Homo sapiens: one gene and its partner. The protein of the gene in region 2 purifies or fractionates together with the protein of the main gene of each other region. This does not show direct contact. Each region holds a gene or a part of one and is shown on either strand. Other genes may lie near its edges.

Region 1 (7,733 bases), about 97 Mb from region 2:
GCTCTGTCACCAGGCTGGAGTGCAGTGGCACGATCTCAGCTCACTGCAATCTCCGCCTCCTGGGTTCAAGCGATTCTCCTGCCTCAGCCTCCTGGGTAGCTGGGACTACAGGCGCCCGCCACCATGCCCAGCTAATTTTTGTATTTTTAGTAGAGACGGGGTTTCACCACGTTGGCCAGGATGGTCTCGATCTCTTGACCTCGTGATCCGCCTGCCTCGGCCTCCCAAAGTGCTGGAATTACAGGCATGAGCCACCGCGCCCGGCCACAACATGTCTGAGGTTATTTTTAAGTCAGTTAAAATACTGAAACAATCATTAAACACAATTTTAAATTGATATACGTTGGCATTGTATTTTTATATGGTATAGAAAAGTTAAAAATATTTAGATCTGTTAATAAGCAAAAAATTGAGGAAACATCTTCCTAAAAAATTATTAAATGGGCCGGGTGCGGTGGCTCACTCCTGTAATCCCAGCACTTTGGGAGGCTGAGTTGGGCAGATCACGAGGTCAGGAGATCGAGACCATCCTGCCTAACACAGTGAAACCCCATCTCTACTAAAAATACAAAAAAATTAGCTGGGCGTGGTGGTGGGAGCCTGTAGTCCCAGCTACTCGGGAGGCTGAGGCAAGAGAATGGCATGAACATGGGAGGCGGAGCTTGCACTGAGCCAAGATCACACCACTGCACTCCAGCCTGGGCGACAGAGCAAGACTCTAAAAAAAAAAAAAAAAAAAAAAAAAGAAATGGTTTCCATCTAAAAATGCTGATATAAAACAGTTCAAAATTCCTTCCTAGGTTTTTCACTAAACTTGAAGTTACTGACTTACAATTGTAGTTAATGCACTTTGGGAGACCAAGGCAGACAGATCACTTGAATCCAGGAGTTGGAGACCAGCCTGTGCAACGTGGCAAAACCCTGTCTCTACACAAAATACAAAAATTAGCCAGGCGTGGTGGTGCAGGTCTGTAGTGCCATCTACTTGGGAGGCTGAGGCAGGAGGATTGTTTGAGCTCAGGAGGCAGAGGCTGCAGTGAGCCAAGATCACACCGTTGCACTCCAGCCTGAGCAAGAACAGGGAGACCCTGTCTCAAAAAACACTGTAGTTTATATATATAATTAAAACTACTAGATGTAAAAGAAACAATTCTGAATACAGAGCATGTAAGAAAAATAGGTTATGTCTTTGGTAAAGATTATAAAGAAGGCATGAAAATGTGGTTTTTGTTATGGGAAGAGTAAATTTGTCTAGAGGTTTTTAAAGGTTTAGTTGAAGGGATAAAAACGAATGATAGATAAGAGTGGATATAGAAAGCTGTGGAAAGAAAGAGAATGGGGTAAACTGTGAGACGTTATAAAAGATTTATTGGGCTGGGCGCGGTGGCTCATGCCTATAATCCCAGCACTTTGGGAGGCTGAGGCGGGCGGATCGCCTGAGGTTGGGAGTTTGAGATCAGCCTGACCAACATGGAGAAACCCTGTCTCTACTAAAAATACAAAATTAGCCGGGCATGGTGGCACATGCCTGTAATCCCAGCTACTCGGGAGGCTGAGGCAGAAGAACTGCTTGAACCCAGGAGGTGGAGGTTGTGGTGAGCAGAGGTGGTGCCATTGCACTCCAGCCTGGGCAACAAGAGCGAAAATCCATCTCAAAAAAAAAAAAAAAAAAGGATTTATTGGCCAGGCATGGTGCCTCATGCCTGTAATCCCAGCACTTTTGGAGGCTGAGGTGGGAGGGTCGCTTGAGCCCAGGAGTTCCAGACCAGCCTGGACAACATGGAGAAACCTTGTCTCTCTCTGAAAAAAAGAAAAAAGAAAAAAGAAAAAAGATTGATTGACATCTTACCTTGCATAGTGAAAGCTGGTTGGGATTGGAGGGATTGGCATTCCCATTGTGCTTGCAGCCCTCCTCCATCTTCCAGACTGTGGAACGCACAGGTGGGATAATAGAAAACCCATCTGCAATGCTGAAACCAGCTTCTAACACTCCCTGGCCTAAGGTGTTTCCACTGTGGTGCTGAACTGGGGTTCTGCCCTGTTTGGAAAACATCAGCTTTCTCTCTTTGAAATAATACCAGGAAGGCCCTGTGCCTGGATGAAGGAGCCTCCAAACCAGCTCCCCTTAAAGGCGATATTCTTCATTATTGCCGAGACCCTATAGAGCTTCTCACTGCACATTCTAAATTAATTAAGGATTCTGTTAACGGCGAGTTCTCAGGAGATGAAGACATGAAAGTTCAAGGTCTCCAACCTGGAGATTTCATGAGAAAAGCATCAAATATAGGACTTCCTCCAACCACAATAGATGGGACCACACCAGGCAGCCTCGCCAGAGAGGTCGTTTCCATCACTGGAGAACTTCAACATCTTGTTCTTCAGGCCAGGACCAGAAGGAGACAAAATAGGTATCTGGTTACCTTCAAAAATAGAAGCACTCTTCAGTTCTAGATTTCAAATTGTTAATAGTTGCCCTTATTTGTGTCATTTTTTCTTTTTCTTTTCTTGTTTTTGAGGCAGAATCTCAGTCTGTTGCCAGGCTGGAGTACAGTGGCACGATCTCAGCTCACTGCAACCTCCGCCTCCCGAGTTCAAGTGATTCTCCTGCTTCAGCCTCCCAAGTAGCTGGGATTACAGGCGCCTGCCACCACACCCGGCTAATTTTTGTATTTTTAGTAGAGGCGCAGTTTCACCATGTTGCCCAGACTGGTCTCAAACTCCTGACCTCACGTGATCCACACGCCTCGGCCTCCCAAAGTGCTGGGATTACAGGCATGAGCCACCACGCCCGGCCCATATTTTTCATTCTTAAATTGATTAGGCTTTGTGTTTCTAGATGTCCAAAGTCAACCAAAAAACCCCGAGGATGCTAGCTAGATGCTCAGAAGCCATCCGGTATGCGTGGCTCCTTCATAGCAGACGGCCTGACAGACCCCGTGCCAATCAACCTTGGCCTTGAGGCCTCACGAAGTTCTTAAGCGCCCACCGCACCTGTCCTCTTTCCCCCCATGCGGGGTGAGATGGCCCGGGAATGAGCCTTCCCAGCAGAAAAACTTACATCTAGAATGTCGATCATCACTGCTTTGAGAAGAGAAAATTTTTGATCAAACACGAGAAATGAGAAAAGAAAAATAGCCGGAGCTATGTGGGATTCTCAAAGATTATCTGGCCCAGAGACACCTGAGTACAGGGCCTCAGTCCCGCCTCCCCACTCACGCCCGGGGCAACTGCTGGAAGGCATTTTGTTCTTTCTTTTCTTTCCTATAGTGTCCGCCTGGCCGCCTCAGCGTCATCTTCATGTTCCTGGAATTTGTGACAAATAATGTACACCAATCAATAGCTTATGCCATTTTAATGCAAATTCTTGGTGAATTTAGGAGCTGCGTCTTCATTTTTCCTTTAAAAACGCACTTGCAACTGCTGCGAATGAGAGCGCGTGCATTCAGACCAACCTGAGTCTGTCCTTCCACGCTGCAGTCCTCAAACTTGGCCCCAACAAACTATTTCTATTCGTTTTGCCTGTTTTCTCCTTTAGGTTGAAAAGCTGACAGCGGGCCCCAGACACTGAGGGGGCGCCTTCCCAGCTTGGCTTCCCCTCCCCCCCACGCCCCCACCCCGTCCCCTGCCCCTCTCCAGGGCCCGTTCTCTGGCGGACGGGGCTGTGGACCAGTTCAGCCGCCCCTCCCCACCCCACCAGGGCGCTGCGGCCTCACTCCCACGTCCACGGGCAGGCCCAGCCCCTCCTGGCCTTCAGGTGACCTCAGCTGCCCGGCTGGCCCCAACTCCACCGCACAACGCAGACTGCGGGTCCCCAGGCCTGGACCCCTGGCCCCGTCCCGCCCGCGCATGTCGGGGAAGCTCTGCTCCGGCAGCCCTCGGGGTGGTGCTGGGAGGTCGCGCAGAACTGAAGGGGGCTAGGTTCGAGAAGCGCCGAGGATGGGGTCTGCGACCGCCTCCCCGCACCTGAGCTTCTCCGCCCCAGCCTGCGGCGTCTGCAGGTCCTACAAGGCGCAGAGCCCCCGCTGCACCTGCACCGAGGCCACGGGGCGCATGCGCGGCCGCGGGGGGCGGGGGCCGGGCCGGGAGGGGTCCTGCGGGCCCCGCATCCCCGTGCCCACTGCGGGGCTCGGACAGGGGGGCGCCGCGCCAGGCCGCAGACCCCGCCCTTCCGCGTCCCCACTCCGGCTGCCCGTGCGGCTCCGGACGAGGCTTCCCGGGGGCTCCGGGCCGGGGCAGCCGCGGCGCCCTCTCCCCAGGTCCACCGCGGGCGCTGCTTTCAAACAAAGGCAGGAGACGGAGCGGGAGACGCTGCCGTGACTGCTCCGGGCGGCCGCGGAGGAGGAGGAGGAGGACGTGGCGCCGCGATCGCCAGCGGTCGGGCCCGGGGTCGGGGCGCTCCCAGGCGCGCGGCGTGGGAGCGGGGGGCGGGGCGGGCGGCGCCCATCACGCGCTCCGCGGCCGGGTCCCGAGCCCCGCCGGACGCCCCCGGGCCAGGAGCCCCCGCCCGCGCCGCCGCCCCCGCCCGTGCCGGGCCCCTCGCGCTGCCCGGCCGCCCCGTCGCGCCCAGCGAGCCACCCGGCGAGGCGGGGGCGGCGTCTCCCCCACCCCCGCGATCACATGGTGACCCCCGGCAGCCAATGCAGTGGACGCTAGGACCCTGCGGGCCGCGGGCGCCGCGACTGCACCGGCGCCGCCGCATTATAAATACTTCTCCAAAATGCGGCGCAGCTCCCTGCGCGCGCCCCGGCCGCCCGCCGCCTCCGCCCCGCGCCCCTGAGCTGCCGCCGCCGCCGCCGCCGCTGCCGCCGCCGCCGCCGCCGCCGCGGGTCCGAGGGCGCCGCGCCCTTGCCCTGGGCCCGGCCGTGCCCGCCGCCGCCCGGCCGCGTCCCCGCTGCCGCGCCGCCCGGCCGGGTGCATGCATTGTGGGCCTCCCGACATGGTCTGCGAGACGAAGATCGTGGCCGCCGAGGACCATGAGGCGCTGCCGGGGGCCAAGAAGGACGCGCTGCTCGCCGCCGCCGGCGCCATGTGGCCCCCGCTGCCCGCCGCGCCCGGGCCGGCCGCCGCGCCCCCCGCGCCCCCACCTGCCCCGGTGGCTCAGCCTCACGGCGGGGCGGGGGGCGCGGGGCCGCCGGGGGGGCGCGGCGTGTGCATCCGCGAGTTCCGTGCGGCCGAGCAGGAGGCGGCGCGCCGCATCTTCTACGACGGCATCATGGAGCGCATCCCTAACACGGCCTTCCGCGGCCTGCGGCAGCACCCGCGCGCGCAGCTGCTCTACGCCCTGCTGGCGGGTCAGTGCGCCGGGCCCCCGGCTGCCGCAGTCCCTCGGGCCGGCGCGGAGCTCCCCCGCCCCGGCGTCCACGCGGACCCCGCGCCCGGCTCCCGGGGACCAGCCTGGGAAGCCCCCCGCTTTCTGCCGCGCCGGGCCCCGCGCAGGGCTGGCTATGGGCGTGGGGATGGGCGCAGGGCCCCGAGCGGGCCGGAGCCGGGGAGGGTCCGGGGTCCGCACCTGCGTCCCCGCCGCGCAGCCCCCCACCCCCACCGCCTCCCCTGTCCCCTCCCGGGCATCCTGGGTGGGGGCGGGTGCCAGGGCAGGTAGCGCCCGCCGCGGCTGGGCCCCGGCGAGTGCCTAAATATAATCTGCGGGCGGGGGAGGCCGCCTCCCGCTCGGTGCTAATTTATGAGGGGAAGACAGCCGGCGCCGCGGGGGGTGCGCGCGCCTGGCACAGCCGGGGCGGTCGCAGAGGGCGGCCCCTTCAGCGTCTTTGGGTGCCCTTCCCCTCAGAGCTTCCTGCCGGGGTGAGGGGGTTCGCTCCCATTTTACAGATGAGGCGCTTGAGGCCGCGTAGGGAGGACGCGACTCCCCCAAGGTCACGGCAGCCGAAATGCGGCTGGAAGCGGTGTGGGGCCTCCCTGCCCTGTCCCTGCCCTCAGAGCTCCCGGACGCTGGCCAGGAAGGGCTCTTGCTGGGGCCCTGGGAAGAGGGGGTCCTGGAGCCCGAGGCTGGAACGTGGGACACCCCCCTTCCTCCTCCCCCCTCCCCCCTCCCCCGCGCGGGGCCTGGTCTGCGGGGCAGCTCCCTGCCAGGATCTGCCCACCTTGGCTTCAGTAGGCCAGCGTGGGCAGAGTCCTTCCCGGCCCGGCCATCCCGAGGGTGTCCTGCCGTGTTTGGAAGCTCAGAGACCCGCCGAGGCTCATTCCAGGCGGTGGGGGTGGGTGGGGTGGCTGTCTTCACCGCAGGAAGCTTGGAAATAGGGAGAAGTAGAAAGCACCCGAGATGACCCCGGCTCCTCCACCAGGAGCGCGGCCGGGCGCGGCGTCCCTAGCGGGCTTCGCCGGGGTGGCGTCTCTGGGGCCTGGGGACCCCCGCCGCGCCGCTGACCCGCGCCCTCTGCCCCCAGCGCTGTGCTTCGCCGTGAGCCGCTCGCTGCTGCTGACGTGCCTGGTGCCGGCCGCGCTGCTGGGCCTGCGCTACTACTACAGCCGCAAGGTGATCCGCGCCTACCTGGAGTGCGCGCTGCACACGGACATGGCGGACATCGAGCAGTACTACATGAAGCCGCCCGGTGAGTCCCGCTCCCGCCGCTCCCCGACCTCCGCCCCAGACAGCCCTCGGGGGCACGCACTCCAGCGACCTCAGGGCAGGCCTGGGCGAGGGCCGGCGTGGGTGGGCCTGAGCCGGGGCCCCTGTGACCTGAGCCTTCTGGGTGACCGAGGCCTCCGGTGTCAGCGGGGCTGGGGGAGGCACGGCCGGTTCCTCCCGCTGAGTGACCTGAGCTGGCCCTGCGACGCAGTGGCTCCACCGTTCCCTGCTGTGGATGCGTCTCCCTGGCGCCTGCTGCGGTGGGGCAAGGGCCGCTGGGCTCTGTGGGTCCCATCTGGTGTGCCTTGCGGGGATGGGGTTGCCTGCAGTGCCAGGGTCCTGGGGGGAGAGGGCTTGTGTGGCAGGGGCCGGGGACCCTATTGGGGCACAGAGGATGGGGTGGGGGCAGGGGACCTGACCTTGAGCCTTGGCCTTCACTTCTGGCCTGATCGCTGGGCCGCTTAGCTGAAGGGTTTTGTCCCAGCCTCTGTGGCCTTCTATAGCTGGAGGAGCTGGGTCTGGGCTCTAGGGGGGGTGGGGGTTGTTCTCCACCCTCGGGCTGGCCCCCAGCCGCTGAGCCACACCGGTTCCCCCATGCCGGATGCCGCAGGGGTGAAGACTCTGCTCTCTGGGGTGGGAGGCTCTCTGCGATCCTGGAGCGTCTGTAGGCCAACGAGAGGGACAGAGTGTGGCCCAAAGGGTTGGGCAGGGTCTGTCAGGAGCCCGGTCAGTGTCAGGGGAGGGGCAGTGTCTGGCACCGCTGGCTGCCATGCTCCACCCCCGCGCCACGGCCTTGGTGCCTGCTGCTCTCCCTGACCCTTTCCTAAACCCAAACAGAGCATCTGAGCAGCCCCTGAGCCCTGGCCAGCCTCTGCTTGGGAGGGGAAACGGGCCATGAGGAAGCACAGGCCACAGCAACACAGGGGGCTCCGGTGGGCACACGGGGCATGGCCCTGCTCCCTCTGGGCCGTGGCCTCCCTGGTGTGAGGGAGTGGAGGGGTAGCTGGCAGGGCTGCAGGAACACCCCACGAGGGCAGAGGCTGGATAGCTGCTGATGGCCCGTGGTGGATTCTGGGAGCTGCTTGTGCACATGGGGAAACCGAGTCTTGGGAGGAGTGAGGTGTGCCCAGGGCCACATGGTGCTGGGGGT
Region 2 (7,991 bases):
TAGAAAAAACGTGGTACTAAGAGAAATGCAGAAATGCTGGTGGTGATTCAAGAGGAGAAAATCAATAAAGGCTTGGGGCAGAACCTCAAAAGGTGTTTAAGTCAGGATACTTTCAGTTGTATGAAACGGAAAACCCCTGTCAAAGTATCTTAACCAAGAAATTTGTCTCATCTGACAGGAAGTCGTGAGTAAGGCCACCTTCAAGGTTGGTTAAGTCAGCCATACAACAAAGGCTGGAAGGCCCTGGTTCTTTTTATCCTTCCACTCTGCCATCCTTGGTGTGGTCTTTGTCATCAGGCTGTAGAGGATCGAGGCATCACATCCAAACCCAACCAAGTCCAAGGGCGAAAGAGACCATTTCTTAGATGCAAGGAAACCTCTAGCAGATTCTTCTCATGGCTTGTTGACCAGAATTGGGCCACCTGCCCATTCCTGAACCACACATTAGCAAGAGGAATGGGACTGCCAGATGTGACGCAGAGGGCCAGTCTTCCCAGAGCATGTGGCTGCTTTAAGAGGGGGACGCTGAACACAGCTGCTAGGGTTCTGAGAGGAAGGCGGCAGGAGGGGTGTGGAGGCAACCAGCAGGGCGGCTACAGAGAAGCAAAAGAAAAACAGAGAGGAGCAGAGAGGCAGACAATGACAGAGCCCAAGAGGAGGGAGGCAGGAAGGTGGGCAGGAACAATAAAGCACAGGTGGAGACAGACAAGCTCGTTAAGTTTGGTGTCTTAGGTTAAAACGCTGTTGTCATATCTTGCTCCTCAGCCAGGCAACTATTAGAAGAACACGCTTTACCTGTTTTCACTGCCACTTGAAGAGCTGATTAACTTGTCAGTAGTTAAACTTATTAACCATTTTTCAACCTCAGAGTTATAAGGGAGGTGGCCTTAGCAGTATTCAGACAGAAAATTTTTCTCCTTTTCTCCTTAAAATAGATCAGCATTTATTGAGTTGTGAAGGAGTTGCGTGAAATAAATATGATTACTTAGTTACTTTCTTACATCTTTATGTATAATTTTATCTTCTTAATTGTAAAAGCAATTTAACCACACTTAAAAATTGCAAACCAGAAACATGAAAACAAAATCACCCAGCCTTATAACTGTTCTTATTTGGCAAAAATTAACTCCTAACTTTTTTTCATACAACTGCATACCGTTTTGTAGACTGCTTTATTTTTCAAAACGTGTATCATATACATGGTACAAATTTCAAAAACAGACTAAAGGGGTTATTTAAAAATAAAACATGTCTCCTTCCTATCAGTATCTTTAGTCCCCCAGTTTGCCCCCCATTCCACCCTAACTCGCTGTTACCAGTTTATTTCGTTTTCTTCCATAGATAGCCTACCCATTAACAAGGAAATATGTGTATGGATATTCTTTTGCCAACAGAGCTTATCTTTTCACAAAATGATAGCCTACTGTGTACACTGTTTTTGTTCCTTGTTTTTAAAATTTAACAATATTACTTGGAGATAATTCCATATATAGTGCCTTTAAAATTTAACATTATAATGTATCCATATATTGCCACATACTCTATAAGCAGTATCTTCAAGAGCTGTAAAAACTGTGAGCAAATGACTCATTCATTCCTTTAATAAATATTTATCAAGCACCTGCCATATCTGCAGAGCTCTGGTGATTCTAAGATTACCAAGGGTTAGGTCACACCCTAGAAGGAGTCACAGCAGATTGAGGAGACAGGTAGGTAAACAAGTTCTTACAGGCAGCCTTTAAGTGCCGGGATGGAAGAACACAGCGGGTGTTGAGGGAATAAAGAAGGAGCCTCCGAGACATTGAACAAAAGTAGTGAAGAATAAGAGAAATCAGCTCACAGACAAGAGACAAGGAGAATGCCCCAGGCAGAAACTCTAAATGACATGTGCAGAGGCACAGAATGTGAAGGAACATTGTGGTCCAAGTAACTACAAGGAATTGGATATCACCCCTACTCTTTGATCTTTAATTTCTGGCCAAGTCTTCAATATAAATAATGCTATGATATACATCTTGCAGTGTATAACTTTTTCCATCTGCTGGGGTATTTCTTTGGGTAGATTCCCAGAAGAGGGACTGCTGAGTCAAAATGTAGGAGCACTCTGACCTGATATATACAGCCAAAATGCTTTCCAAATGGACATATTATTTCATAAGGACACCAACAATGTATGTGCTAACCAGTGCTCATTATTTTTGTATCTTTATTAGTTTTAATGTATACTTCATTTATTACTAGATTAATTTCCCCATATATTTTATTTCTTATATGATTTATTTTCTGTTTATACTCAACCACTGCGATTCTATATTTTACTATAGCTCTATGAGCCCTACTTATAATATAGACATTCAGGTTTTTATTTTTCATGTTTGCTGCCAATTTTTTTTCTGGTTTAGCTTACACTAAAAAAAGCTGGACACGTAGAAGTGTTTAAGATATTACCCAATCATATCCATTGATTATTTCCTTCTATTGCCTCTAAGTTGAGAAATACTTCTATACAGAGGTTTGACAAATATTTTTCCTTCTGGTCTGCTTTAAAATATATTTAACTCCTTAATCCTCATAGAACTTATTTTGGATATACGAAATGAGATAATTCAATTAGTTTTTCCACCCCCCCCTCCAAATTACTGATTAGTTATCTTACCTTTCCCTTCTCCATTGATTTTTCTTTTTAAGACTTTATTTTCTTAGCAGTTTTAGTTTCACAGCAAAATTGAAAGAAAGACTGCATACTGTATGATTCCTTATATATGGCATTCCGGAAAAGGCAAAACTAAGGAGACAGGGATACAGTCAAACTTCAGTGGCTGCCAGAGACTGGGGGGAGGAAGGGATAAATAGGTGGTGTACAGAGGACTTTTAGGGCAGTGAAAATACTCTGTATGATACTATGATACTATGAGGGTGGGTTCATGTTATTCTATATTTGTCCAACCCTATAGAATATACAGCCCCAAGAGTGAACCCTAATGTAAACTATGGACTTTGGGTGATAATGATCTGGCAATGTAGGTTCACTATTTGTAGCAAATGTGCTACTTTGGTTGGGGATGTTGACAATGGGGGAGGGTGTGGGGTCGGGTATATGGGATATCCACTGATTTTTATTTCAAAGATAAATCCACTTAGAGATCAACTCAGTCATCAATTGCATCTAATTTCTGGTCCTTTTGAAATGTGTCACATCAGCTTAGGACAGACCTTTCTTCTGACTCATCCAGTATTCCTGCAGCGACTGTTCTATTTATATACAGAATTACAACATAGCTCCAATAGGCTTAGGTAAAGCTTGTCAGTACCTTCCTGTTAACAAGGAAATCTGCTGCTGAAAGACCTTACTTTTGAAGTCTACCAGATTGGTGGTAGTATGGCCTGTGTTTTGAGTGGGTAGAGAGCACTTTTGAGGGAGTGAGGATTATTTCATCCAAAGGGCTGAAGCTACTGTTATCCCGTGTCATAGCTTCTGAGGTACTGAATGAGTAGGATCTCCTGGCCCTCCCATCTCTGTGGGTACCTCGTTCATACTTGCGACCTCAATATAGCCTCAATCCTGCTGAAGCCCAGTACTATCTCTAAATGTGGTTTATTGCAGGAAAAAGTAGCTTCTTGACTAGCCAAAACTTGACTGCCGGTTGTCAACTAGCCAGTTTTTGAGAAAAGTGAGAGGTTGTTACGTAGGAAACCTTATAACTAGAGGCTCTCAAACTCAAGTATTTAAGTATCATCTTTTAGATTTCTGTGTCCAGGATCGGGTTGCACTGGGTGGTGCTGGAAAAATTTTTTGATCTCACCTCCTTCTAGCCTTTTGAATCCTTAAAAATATTCCCATAGACATTTATACACAGTCCTGGGCGGTTCTTCCTTCTCCTTCCGTGAAATACTGGTACCTGCTTTGCCAACACCTATGAAAGTGCTCCAGGAGGAGGGCGGATAAGCAACTAATGAGCACACCTGCTCAGGTAGGGTTCTAAAACAATTTCCAGCCACCTGTTCTATTCTTCCCCAGAGTTCAAAAGCTTAATGGTTCGTGATCCAAAAACCCAATTCAGATTCCCCAGAAGACCTCCCTGGAATCCGTTGTGGATTCCTTCCTAGAGTTAGGAGGCAAGCAGGTTTCTTAGGCACTATTCTGTCGGGGTAGGGGGGAGCGTGCGCTGTCCGGGTTTGTGTGGTTGCAATAGACCCTAGGGCGAGGATCGCATCCCGGGCCAGGACTCCCTTGAGCCATCTCTTTTTCCTCGTCCCCATTTCTAGGATAAAACCCATTTCTCCGGTAGGTGGGGAGGTTGGGTTAGAGTCACACAGGGATTCAGGAAGCTTTCCTTTTCAACGTCCCATCCCTTCATCCTTTCCTCCCACTTCCCGTGGCTCTTTTCTCCACCTTCCCCAACTACCCCCTTTTCCATTCAGCGAAGTCCACGACGACTTTCCTTCCCTGTCCAGTGGCATCGCATCTTCTCTAGCCACATAAGCCTGTTGTGGAGGAGGGGGCGCCAGTGTGGCTACCCTGGAAGGGGTGTCGGGGGTGGCTCGCAGGTCCTCACTCACCCAGCCCTCTCCCCGAGGAGCGACCCTCTCGCCCGCGTCCCTCCAGAGCTGCGCCGCTCATCAATCCCGGTCACTCTGCCAGCCTGCTCCCCGGGCGCCCTTCCTTCTCCCTCTCGCCTGCGGTCCTCCACCCTCCCACCCCCTACCTACCCCGCAGCGACGTTCGGGGTCAGCGGCGCTTGGGGTTGGCCCGAGAAGGGGCGGGGATAAAGCGAGCGGTGGAAGGAGGCGGCTACGTGGTGCCACCGCCGCCCGGGAGCGCCCGACCCCGTGCGCGCGCGCGCCTAGCCAAGGCTTGGGCGGCGGGCGGAGCTGCGGGCGGCGCGGGCGGAGGAGCAGCCGGCCGGGCGGGCGGAGCGAGAGGCGGGCGGAGCGAGGGGTGGGAGGGCGCGCGCGAACGGGCGGGCGAGCAAGCGAGCGGCGTCTCCACCAGCATCTGCCGCGGCCGCCTTTGCCCGAAGCCCGGGGACGAACCGACGGACCGACCGCCTGGCGCACGGACGCGGGCGCTCGCTTTGTGTTCGGGGCTAGCGTCGGCGAGGCTTGAGCTTGCAGCGCGCGGCTTCCCTGCTTTCTCGCGGCCACCCCGGCTCCGGCGGCCTCGGCGCGCGAGGGGCTGGAGGTGCGGGAGCCGCTCTCCGCCGGTCGGTCCCCGCGCGGCTGAGCCCAGGCCGCCAGCGCCGCGGCCCCGTGCGGTGTCCCTGAGCTCCTGCTCCCCGCCGGGCTGCTCCGAGCAACGGTGCTTCGGAGCTCCAAACTCGGGCTGCCGGGGCAAGTGTCTTCATGAACCCAGAGGATGTCCGGGAAGCACTACAAGGGTCCTGAAGTCAGTTGTTGCATCAAATACTTCATATTTGGCTTCAATGTCATATTTTGGGTAAGTTGGAGCGCTCCTGGGATTCCAACTATTGTGGCCGATCGATTCGCGACGATTTCCCCCACGTTGTTCGTTGCCTTTACTTTTCGCAGCCCCGCAGGCGCTTGCCGGAGCAGCATAGAGGCATTCGCCTTCCGCCTTTCCAGCTTGCGCGTTGGAGAGATAAACATTTAATCCTTTCGAGGAATGGGAAGAGGTGAAAAGAGAAATCGAGGCGGAAAGGGGGCACCGAGGCCTTCTGGTGGCTTTTTGAGGAACGAATAGCAGGGATGCAGATAAAAGAAAGGGTTCGGCAGTTTGAGAAATGAGCAACCACACGAATTGGATTTGCTCTCGGTGGGATATAGATGTTGGGCAGAGCGTGGTGTCATAATAGGGAAGGCTAATCGGGCACGGCCGACCCTGAGGTCCACCTTCTAACAACGATCTGATTGGACGAGGGCTTGGCTCCGTGTTGCCGCGGCTGGTCTGTGCCATGCTCAGCGTGTATCTTCTTGCACCATCTCGGGCTTTGTGTAGGATGCAGATGCCGTGGTATATGGTCCTGTAATTGCACGTAAATAACGTTTCCTGCACGCTCTCCTCTTCAGCTGGAAAGCGCTCCCTGTGCGTAATGGACTGGTCAGTGGGGGTGCGGGGTAGAGGGATTTATTTGTATGTATATATCATCGTCAGGATAATAAGTCACCGTCAACATATATTTCAGTGTGTTCCTGCCCCACGTCCTCATTTTTAAAGGAGTGACACAGAGCGGGCCGTTTGGGGGAACCTTTGTAGAAATGCAAAGGAGAAGGTGTGCGAGGCATGTTTTATTGGGGAACCGAGAGAGCAAATGCTTTAACACAAGATTCAAATGATGCTCTGCTTGGGACTGCAATGTGTTGGGAACCTATTGTAATTAGGCTGGGACGCCTACTCTTTTTGTTTGTTTGTTTGTTTTGATTCTTTTCCTTGATCTGGCAAACGTGTTCAGCAGCCAGACAAAGAGTTCTCCAGGACAAGGGGAAAACGTTGGTTCAAAGACCATGTTATTTTTCTTCCCCTTCTCATCCCATCTCATCCTCTTCCTCAGTGGGCACCCGCATTTCCATAGAAAGTAAAGATGGTGGCTGTCTGGGTAGGGGGTTCTCTAAGTTGCTGTTCAGTGTGAGGTAAACAATGCTCCAACTGCAGGATCAATAATTATCCACAGCAGTCTGAACACGGAATGTATTTATTTGAATTCTCCTTTAATTTGGGCTGTTTGCTGTACGTATATACATCTGTGAGAATAGTTGTCAATACGGCTCTTCATATTCTTTTTTTGTACCGCACTCTTACCAGGTTATTTTATTTTCTGTTTTCTATTATAATACCTTGCATTGGTCATGTATGTTTTGTGAGGGGAAATGCAAGGGATTGGAGACCACTTTCCGTGTCAGCATGTCATCTGTCTTCAGGACTAATAAAGATAATGAGGGGACACATGAATGGATGTCATATCCGATCATTCCACAGGCAGTTTTTTGCCAGTGTTGTGCATGATTCCCGGGAGCAGTCACCCACCTCCCTGCAATTAAACACTGCTACAAGTACAGGAAGAAGGAATTATTTTCTTTCTTTGCCCCTTCTCCATTTGTGAAAATGTTTAAAAGTGGTGGGTAGCCACGGTTTTGAGTAAGATATTCTGATTTGATTGGAACTTGAAACTTTGTGACTTGGAGAGGCACGGACTACCGAACTGGGACTGGTTCTTTTTGGGGTAGTGAGTTCAGGCCTCTTGTTTCTACTTGAACATTTCTAAAAGTTGCACATTTTAGCTACCCAGCAACAAAAAGCACCCAGGGACTTTCTCTGCCGTTTCCTAGCAGGGGGTGGTAAGGAAATAAAAGGATTTGGGTCTGTTTCCCTGACAGTTTGCTGTAATTCTGTGGAGTGCATAGAGACAAATTTAGCCCTTTCTATGGATTAGGTTGCAGCAAAACCCCTGGAATTGTAGAGAGCTTCAAAGAATTGCAGAGTGCTTGCTTGGAGAGGTCCAGAACAGAGCCGCATGTTTTCTGATTGTGAAGGTCTTCATAGGTGGGTGGGTGAGTATGGGAAGCCTGAAAGGAGACCTAGGCTATGGGACTAAACTAGCTGCCCCAGGCAGAATTGTTAAGTGAGTGCCTTCCTTATGAGGGCCCTTCACTTACCCTGCCTCTTGCCTTCCCTTCCTCTCCTCTCTGTGCCCAAAGCCTTCCTCTCAGATACTCCCTCATACCTTTCCTATCCTGCTCTCTGCCTCAAAATTACCCCATATTTAAATTTCCTGCTTTATTGTACCATGGTCTCTAGTGATGATCAACAGAAAGGCAACCATATGGTTTTGGTTAAAGTAATTCAGACTAAGATGTTAGTGACTGAAAAGCTGGGGTCAGTAGCTTGGCAGCTTGCTTCTGAAAAGTTACACACCTCTGCTCTCTACAGAGTCACCAACCTGTCTGTGATTGCCAAAAACAGCAGACTCGGTGCTACTCCCATACAATTATGAAGAAGAGATTGCCAACAGCATGGTTTCCTAATTTTCATTTTC

The links. The genes of interacting proteins can lie anywhere in the genome.
Region 1: the proteins of TSPAN5 (region 2) and NAT8L purify together in Homo sapiens (affinity purification with mass spectrometry; 3 studies listed by BioGRID and IntAct, with this or other methods). This does not show direct contact.

What each region holds. Positions count from the first base shown.
Region 1 is NC_000004.12:2,054,597-2,062,329, forward strand, and holds the start of NAT8L (N-acetylaspartate synthetase), read left to right. Parts: upstream 1-4,730; 5' UTR 4,731-4,915; coding exon 4,916-5,291; intron 5,292-6,401; coding exon 6,402-6,566; intron 6,567-7,733. UniProt on the Homo sapiens protein: Catalyzes the synthesis of N-acetylaspartate acid (NAA) from L-aspartate and acetyl-CoA. Promotes dopamine uptake by regulating TNF-alpha expression. Attenuates methamphetamine-induced inhibition of dopamine uptake.
Region 2 is NC_000004.12:98,655,592-98,663,582, reverse strand, and holds the start of TSPAN5 (tetraspanin-5), read left to right. Parts: upstream 1-4,971; 5' UTR 4,972-5,356; coding exon 5,357-5,437; intron 5,438-5,933; exon of another isoform or gene 5,934-6,043; intron 6,044-7,991. UniProt on the Homo sapiens protein: Part of TspanC8 subgroup, composed of 6 members that interact with the transmembrane metalloprotease ADAM10.